2 separate regions of the Homo sapiens genome follow, and region 2 is linked to region 1. Evidence: fine-mapped expression QTL. A gene starts in region 1. The other region holds a variant in brackets. All regions are shown on one strand. Distances are between the middles of the regions.

What was found. PIP is the estimated chance that this variant, and not a neighbour inherited with it, causes the effect. A credible set is the group of variants that fine-mapping cannot tell apart.
Region 2: its variant is the best candidate, but not a certain one, in a credible set for the expression of SH2D1B in skeletal muscle (GTEx, PIP 0.79).

Annotation. Positions count from the first base shown.
Region 1 is chr1:162,410,225-162,414,622 of GRCh38, forward strand. It overlaps SH2D1B (SH2 domain containing 1B), which reads right to left and starts at 1,912. Exons shown (of 4, transcript NM_053282.5): 1 at 1,659-1,912. The coding sequence starts at 1,792.
Region 2 is chr1:162,485,140-162,489,537 of GRCh38, forward strand. No RefSeq gene overlaps it. Among named protein-coding and RNA genes, the nearest start is that of UHMK1, 10 kb to the right of the region's middle. The variant T/G (reference allele first, on the strand shown) is at 2,475.

The DNA.
Region 1 (4,398 bases):
CCAGAATCCACTTTACCCCTGATGTTTCCTCCGAGTAATTTTCTGTCTACCGACAGCCACACTGCTCCTTGGCCATAAATTCCCACTTGTCCATGCTGGATTCAGAGTTGAGTCCAGTCTCTTTTCTGTGCCGCAAGAGCTCATTGCAGTGGTCCCTGTACCTTTGTGATGATCCTGAATAAAGTCTTCCCAACCATAATTTAACAAGTGACATTGAGTAATTTTTTTCTTTAACAAGAGACATTTGGATTTTAATTTCTGTTACAGGTATAATAAAAGGTTCAGTGGTCCCTACTTTACAAAGAGGAACATACATAAAGATAGGAGGTTTCTAGTGATTTCTGTTCAGGATTGCTTTCTAAACTGGGCATAAACAAGTTCCTTCAGCTAGGTCTCTTTGATACTGTGGCCTGGAATTTGTTTTTCTTTTTCTTTTTTTTTTTTTTTTTGAGATGGAGTTTTGCTCTTGTTGCCCAGGCTGGAGTGCAATGGCACAATCTCAGCTCACTGCAACCTCCACCACCCGGGTTCAAGTGATTCTCCTGCCTCAGCCTCCCAAATAGCTGGGATTACAAGCATACGCCACCACACCTGGCTAATTTTGTATTTTTAGTAGAGACGGGGTTTCTTCGTGTTGGTCAGGCTGGTCTCGAACTCCCGACCTCAGGTGATTCACCTGCCTCCGCTTCCCAAAGTGCTGGGATTACAGGAGTGAGCCACTGTGCCCAGCCACTCTTTTTTCTTTTTTTTGGACAGAGTCTCACTCTATTGCCCAGGCTGGAGTGCAGTGGTGCAATCTCAGCTCACTGCAGCCTCTGCCTCCTGGGTTCAAGTGATTCTCCTGTCTCAGCCTCTCAAGTAGCCAGTATTACAGGCACACGCCACCACACCAGGTTAATTTTTGTATTTTTGGTAGAGATGGGGTTTTGCCGTGTTGGCCAGGCTGGTCTCAAACTCCTGACCTCAAGTGATTCACCTGCCTCAGCCTCCCAAAGTGTTGGGATTACAGGCATGAGCCACCATGCCCAGCCTGGAATTTCATGTTTAACTTAGACTCTGGAAATTCCAAATGAGTTTTAACACAAACAAATTATTTGAGAAATTCAGGTCTCTGTTTCTTTACCTATGAAATGGTGACTGCTTATGCTTGCCTTGATAGACTACTAGGATGAAAGGAAATGACGAATATTGAAGTCCTTCACAAATCTAACAAAATGTGAAATATGATTGTATTTATAGTTTACGTATTGCAAGCAGATGCTGCAGAATAAGTGTTTCAGATTGAAATTTCTTGAAGAACCCCTAGCCTTTTCCATACCAAATAAACAGATCTCTGGAGGACAGGACCTCTGACATTTGTACCTTCTTTCCATCCCTCTGTACCCCTGTACTTCCTGCAGCCCTTCCCTTCACCACCACCATGTCCCTCCTGCTGCTGCAGAGTCTGCTTGCAGGGCCTTTACACCAGGGAGAGCAGGCAGATGGAGGAGCATGGACAGATACATTCCTCTCCTGGCAGTGTCCATTACTTCTCATTCTACTCATTGAGACTCCAAAGTCAGAGTGAAATACTGAGGGATATGAATTCCTGTACTGTGTGGCAGCCATTGCCACATTCAACATACGATGTCAGATGTGTGCAAGATGAGGCTACTCACGAGACACAGAGGCACAGGACTCCTGGTATCGACTCGCTGTCTCTTAAAAGAAAGTTGCCATCCACCCCTTCCTTGAGCAGCAAGGTCTCACAGTCTTGCTTGGTCAGACGTCCATGGTAGTAAGGCAGATCCATGGAGAACGCTCTTGTATCCCAGGAAGCCCTGTTGGCCTGAAATTCACCCCCAAGTCAAGGGACAGCTCTGAGGAGAGATGTGTAAGCAGCTGTACCTCCTGTGGAGCTACCTCTTCCTCTAGCGGTCTGTGGGACTCAGCCAGCTTCACAAGATTCAGGAAATGAGGAGGGCGGGGTGATAAAATGACCAACACTTTTCACCCTCTAAATGGCCCACATGTGACTCACAGAAGTAGGTAAAGCACATTTAAACACACAATGGAATCAGTGATGCTCATGGCTAGGGAGGCAATGCTGAAGTCAAGCTTCCTGGAACTGTGTTGCAGCCTTGTATATTACCATGGACTATCATCAACTTCTTTGGCTACTGGTATCCTTTCCAGGAAGCACACCGCTGCTTTTGCTGTAATGGTACCCATTTTCTGCTGAAGTTGCCTAGGATTGGGCTATGCTTAGCTTAGACTGGGTGCTCAAAAACCATTTGGATGCTGAGAGAATTGATATGCTCAGATACAATGGGAAAATTGAAAGGGTGGGATTTCCGTGGATCAAATGACACTAAAAATGGAAGACATTAATGGCAATAAAAAACAGTGGGACACTGTGGATGAGGACAGCCCATTCCATGGCTAAGGCTCCCAGCCACTGGTGAAAAAAGGCCATTTGAACACCCTCAAGCATTGTTCCTTTTGGAGAAAGGGCTGGTGTAGGTGGGAGGGATATCTGGGTATACTCATATATCTACAGAAAATCACTATATATATCTCAAAAATGTTATCTATGAAAATAGAACTATGTGCTAACGATTCATCTTTACTTCTCTTAACTTCTTCTTTTTTTTGTTTTCTTCATCTCCGTAGTACCTGGAGATCTTAACTTCTTCTTAACCTAGATGTTTATTTCACCTTGCTACTTTGCTTACCAGCTGTTTACTCACAGTTGGGTGTATCTTCTATGGAACTTCCTTGTAACAGATCTTTGTTCTTCCTTGGAATTCCCACTCTGCATTTGGCATAGTGCAGTTTCACTGATCAGGGAACTCGTTATCAGACAGATATGCTCTCAAATAGCAACTTTTCTTCTGTGGTTTTGGACAATTCATTATTCAATTCTCTGGAAACTATGGCAGTTGAAGACAGAGTTGTTAATAATGAAAGAAGAAATTTGGTATTTCTTGTGAATAAATTCACAATCGTGGTGTAAAGATGCTTTTTGACATAAGAGAGGAAATAACTGAAAGCATGCTCAGGCTCTTGGTCATCACAGGGGCTTCCTTGCCCTTTTTGCTGTTTCAAAATCCAACCCTCACAATAAAAGAAATGCAAATTACCTGCATGCTGAGATAACAACTCTCACCTATCATATGGGTGAAAATCAAAAGTTTGAAAGCTTATTGGGTTGGTCATGGTGAAAGAAAATAGAATATCTTGTATATCATTAGTTGGAATAAAAAATAGTTACAACTATAGTAAAAGATGGTTTGGCAATATCTTGCAAATTTATGTATGCCTTCACCATCTGATAGAACAATCTCAGTTCTAGAAATCTGTCACAAAACTACACAGGCAGAATTAGAAAATGACTTGTGAATAAGGTAGTATTTTTTAATAGAAAAAGATTACAAACAACTCAAAGACTTGTGAATAGAGGGACAGGTGAATAAACTGTGATTCATGTATACAATGGAATATTACTATAGAATAATAAAATGGGATTGAGGAAGATCTCTATATGCTGATATGCAATAATCTTCAGGATGTATTTTTAGGTGAAAGCAGCAAGATGCACAATAGTATATAGAGTATGGGGGATATAAATAAATATATACATTTATAATATTTGCTCATATTTAAAAAACAAACGAAACACCCACTGGAAGAACAAAACTAAAACTAATTAAAACTAAAAACTTCTGCCTCTAAGAGGAGAGCGGAAACATGCATAGAGGTGAGACTTCTCTCAGTAAAACTTGCTGTAGAGTTGTTGGTTTTTTGTTTTGTTTTGTTTTGAGACAGAATCTCACTCTGTTACCCAGTCTGGAGTGCAGTGGTGTGATCTCGGCTTACTGCAACCTCTGCCTCCCTGGTTCAAGCAATTCTCCCACATCAGCCTCCCAAGTAGCTGGGACTACAGGCACGTGCCACCATGACTAGCTAATTTTTGTATTTTTAGTAGAGACAGGGTTTCACCATGTGGCCCAGGCTGGTCTCAAACTCCTCACTTCAAGTGATCTGCCTGCCTCGGCCTCCCAAAGTGCTGGGATTACAGATGTGACCCACTGCGCCCAGCCTGCTGTGGAGTTTTGAATGTAGAATCATGTAATTGTTTTTTTGTTTTGTTTTGTTTTGTTTTGAGACAGAGTCTCACTCTGTCGCTCAGGCTGGAGTGCAGTGGTGCGATCTCGGCTCACTGCAAGCTCTGCCTCCTGGGTTCATGCCATTCTCTTGCCTCAGCCTCCCGAATAGCTGGGACTACAGGCCCCTGCCACCACGCCCAGCTAATTTTTTGTATTTTTAGTAGAGACGGGGTTTCACCATGTTAGTCAGGATGGTCCCAATCTCCTGACCTCGTGATCCACCCACCTCGGCCTCCCAAAGTGCTGGGAT
Region 2 (4,398 bases), 75 kb after region 1:
CATTTCAACAAAGGAAAAACTAAAGTTTTCTCTATTTATACTAATGACTTAGATAAGAGTTATCCTTTGTAAGGAGGGAGAACCACGCAAAAGGTATACTAATAAGTCAGACAAAATAAGCAGATCTATAGAAAACTAACATTGTCTACTAAACAACATTGACCATCATCTACAATTTACTGATAATGTAAGCCATAGATTTAATAATTTTTATGTAGGGTTTCCTTGAGACTTGAAGATTATTATAAGCATTCCTCCAGGGTAAGGAGATTGAGAAATGTTAGGGAGAGTCTAGTTATGAGTCAAAAACCACAACAGTAATTGGAGCAGGAAAAACTTTCAAAAATGGAATTATTAAGAAGTGAAAGATGGTTAACTAAAAGGTATAAAAGGGGATTTCACAAAATACAGGAATGGCAAATACAGGAAACAGCTACCATCCATAGGGTTAAGGGAGAAGATATCTAAGGAGGAAACTAAGAGTTTGGAAGAAGATACTCATCCCATAAGGTCAAGACTCAGATCTTGTTAGAGTGTGGCTACAGTCCAGCCTGGTAGGCAACAGAAAGTTTGCTGGGGTCCTGGTGGGCCAGGAAACTGAGGGTAGGTCTGTTAACATCCTCTGCTAAGAACTGAAGGTCAGGCTTTGGAATTGTCCTGCTGCCACTTGGAGAGATGGCTGAAAGCTTTATTAAGAGAAGAGCAAGGTTTTGGCGGGGAGGGGAAAGAAGAGGTTTTCCTTGCCTTTGCTCAGCCATATAACATTAAAGGATTTTTAAAAATTGTGTTGCTATTCCTCATGAGGATTGGGATGTGCGATAGGCAGAATACTAATCTATCCTTTTCTATGGCACACCAATTTTTTTTTTTTTTTTTGCCTAACTCCTACCAGTACTGTCTATATTATAACACAGCTCCAGCACAATGAAAAAAAAAAAAAATAAAACAATACATCTCTCTCTGTCTATTCCTCTTCAAAGGAATAAATACAATATAAAAATCTATAAAAAGATATATTAAAATATACAATACCATATTATAATAGAACATAGTAATTTAGCAAATGACTTAGTATTACATCACACAAGAACCCATGAAACAAAAAGGATTTAATGGAAACCTGCCCAGACTGTAAAAACCAGAACAGTAATTCATAAGCAGAAAAGAAAATGTTCAGAGGAAAAGCTGTTGGCATTTGAAAGACTAATGCAGCTCTTAATGCAAATTAATAATGAATGCAGTTAGTTTGTGACACCATGTAAAATAGTGACAAGTGATGGTGTAAAACAATCTGAGTTTATATATCTTGTTTGTGATTTCCATTATTTCAGGATCAGGAGTAAAAACAGTGTTTTTGAATATAGAGACAATTCTCGATTATCTATAATCATACAGTTTCTGGATTATCAAGGTCCTTAAATTTTCCTTGGTTTTGCTAACCATCTTTTTTTTATATATATATACTTTAAGTTCTAGGGTACGTGTACACAATGTGCAGGTTTCTTACATATGTATACATGTGCCATATTGGTGTGCTGCACCCATTAACTCTTCATTTGCATTAGGTATATCTCCTAATGCTATCCCTCCCCCCTTCCCCCACCCCACGACAGGCCCCAGTGTGTGCTGTTCCCCTTCCTGTGTCCAAGTGTTCTCATTGTTCCATTCCCACCTATGAGTGAGAACATGTGGTGTTTGGTTTTTTGTCCTCGCGATAATTTGCTGAGAATGATGGTTTCCAGCTTCATCCATGTCCCTACAAAGGACATGAACTCATCCTCTTTTATGGCTGCATAGTATTCCATGGTGTATATGTGCCACATTTTCTTTTTTTTTTTTTTTTTTTGAGACGGAGTCTCGCTCTGTCGCCCAGGCTGGAGTGCAGTGGCGGGATCTCGGCTCACTGCAAGCTCCGCCTCCCGGGTTCACGCCATTCTCCTGCCTCAGCCTCCCAAGTAGCTGGGACTACAGGCACCTGCCACTACGCCCGGCTAATTTTTTGTATTTTTAGTAGAGACGGGGTTTCACCGTTTTAGCCGGGATGGTCTCGATCTCCTGACCTCGTGATCCGCCCGCCTCGGCCTCCCAAAGTGCTGGGATTACAGGCGTGAGCCACCGCGCCCGGCCGCCACATTTTCTTAATCCAGTCTATCACTGGTGGACATTTGGGTTGGTTCCAAGTCTTTGCTATTGTGAATAGTGCACACGTATGTTTATTGTAGACCATCTTTTCACTGTTTATTACCACTCTCGCCAGAAGATGGAGATCAAAGTAAAGAGGTTGTGAAGTCCAAATGACTCAAATGTCACCATCAGTGAAAGTGGCTTTTCTCAGCATTAGTTGGTGCTGGGAGAGAAAGGGAGGTTGGTGCTGGGAGAGAAAGGGAGGAACAGAAGATGTTGAAATAAATTCCCTGGCCGGGCATGGAGGCTCATGCCTGTAATCCCAGCACTTTGGGAAGCTGAGGTGGGCA[T/G]ATCACGAAGTCAGGAGTTCGAGAGCAGCCTGGCCAACATAGTGAAACCCTATCTCTACTAAAAATGCAGCCTGGCCAACATAGTGAAACCCCATCTCTACTAAAAATGCCAAAAATTAGCCGGGCATGGCAGCACCCACCTGTAATCCCAGCTACTCAGGAGGCTGAGGCAGGAGAATCGCTTGAACCAGGGAGGTGGGGGTTGCAGTGAGCCAAGATCGTGCCACTGCACTCCAACCCAGGCAACAGTGCAAGACTCCAACTCAAAAAAAAAAAAAAGAGAAAGAAAGAAAGAAAAAAGGAGAGAGAGAAAGAAAGAAAGAAAGAAAGAAAGAAAGAAAGAAAGAAAGAAAGAAAGAAAGAAATGCCCTGCTCTGCCTAGTGCCCTTTTCTTTTGCCTCTTCTTCCCCCACCACGTTTGCCTCTCCCTCATCCTTCCTGTCTTTCATCCTTTAGTACCCTTCAATTCTACATGAAACAATCTTGGTCCAGGATTGATAATTAGAAAAAAACAGCTGAAGACTTCCCTACCTGGAAGAAGGATAAGGTCCCTAGGTTCTGTAGTGGGTGAGCTGCGGGCCTGGGTTCTTCCTTCAGACGTTACAGATGCTTCTGCTTGGTCTGGGGAACAGCAACGCAGCAAACCAGTAATGTGAAGCTACAAAGAAAAAAATAATCATTACATAGGAGGAAACAAGTACTGAAAAACAATCCATCATCTTGCTGTACCAGTGAAGACTCCAGACTGCAGCAATCGTCCTACACTTGAGACTTCCTCTAAATATAGAAAAGTACAGACTGATGTTCCAGAGGGAACCTTAGGGCTTATCTTGGAGCTGAGACTCCAGGTGGAGATTGCCAATCACTGCCACCTAACCCTCCGGCTACATTGTCTGTCTCATATGTCTCACTTGTTTGGGAAACTCTCATCTCAGTCAGAGGGTAGTGGCAGGAGATGAAATAAATAAAGCCCCAAATCTTGACCTTGACTCATGAACACATTAAACCCTTTTGGGACTCTTAATTTGTTCTCATGTGGCCCCAGCAATGGGCCAAACACCTTTAATCTTGTAAGGCAGGTGTGTTTCACTCACATCAGTTTCTCTGTTCTCTACCTTCCTCAGTTCTATTTCTGTTTTTTTTTTTCTGAGATGGAGTCTCGCTCTGTCACCCAGGCTGGAGTGCAATGGTGCGATCTCCACTACTGCAACCTCCGCCTCCTGGGTTCAAGTGATTCTCCTGCCTCAGCCTGCCAAATAGCTGGGACTACAGGCCCATGCCACCACGCCCAGTTAATTTTTGTATTTTTAGTGGAGACGGGGTTTCACCATGTTGGCCAGGGTGGTCTCAATCTCCTGACCTCGTGATCCGCCCACTTCGGCCTCCCAAAGTGCTGGGATTACAGGCATGAGCCACTGCGCCCGGCCCCTCAGTTCTATTTCTAATTGTCTTTCCTCCTTAAGACATAATGCCCTTTGTTAAAGTCCATCTTCTGGTTTTTCCATTTTCTCCTACTGGTTGTCATCCCCTCTCCATCCACTAGCCTCCTGTTGCTGCCTGAAAAATAGACAACCATTTAACAAACATTTGTTAAGAGCTTAATAATGTTCCAGACACTATTCCAGGCACTGGAAATACAGCGGTGAACAAATCAAAATCAAACTCGTCCTTATTTTAGACAGGGGAATCTAATTTAAAAAATGAATTATATACTATGTCCAAGGTGATACAGAGTGAAATGAAAGCAAAGTAAGGGGTGCAGAGGATACCAGGGAAGTAAGGAATGGCTAATTTATATAAATGTGATCAAGAGAACTTCATCAATTAAGGACATTTGGGCAAACACTTGAAAGAAATGAAAAGTTGTCTGGGTGTGGTGGCTCATGCCTGTAATCCTAGCACTTTGGGAGGCCAAGGCGGGCAG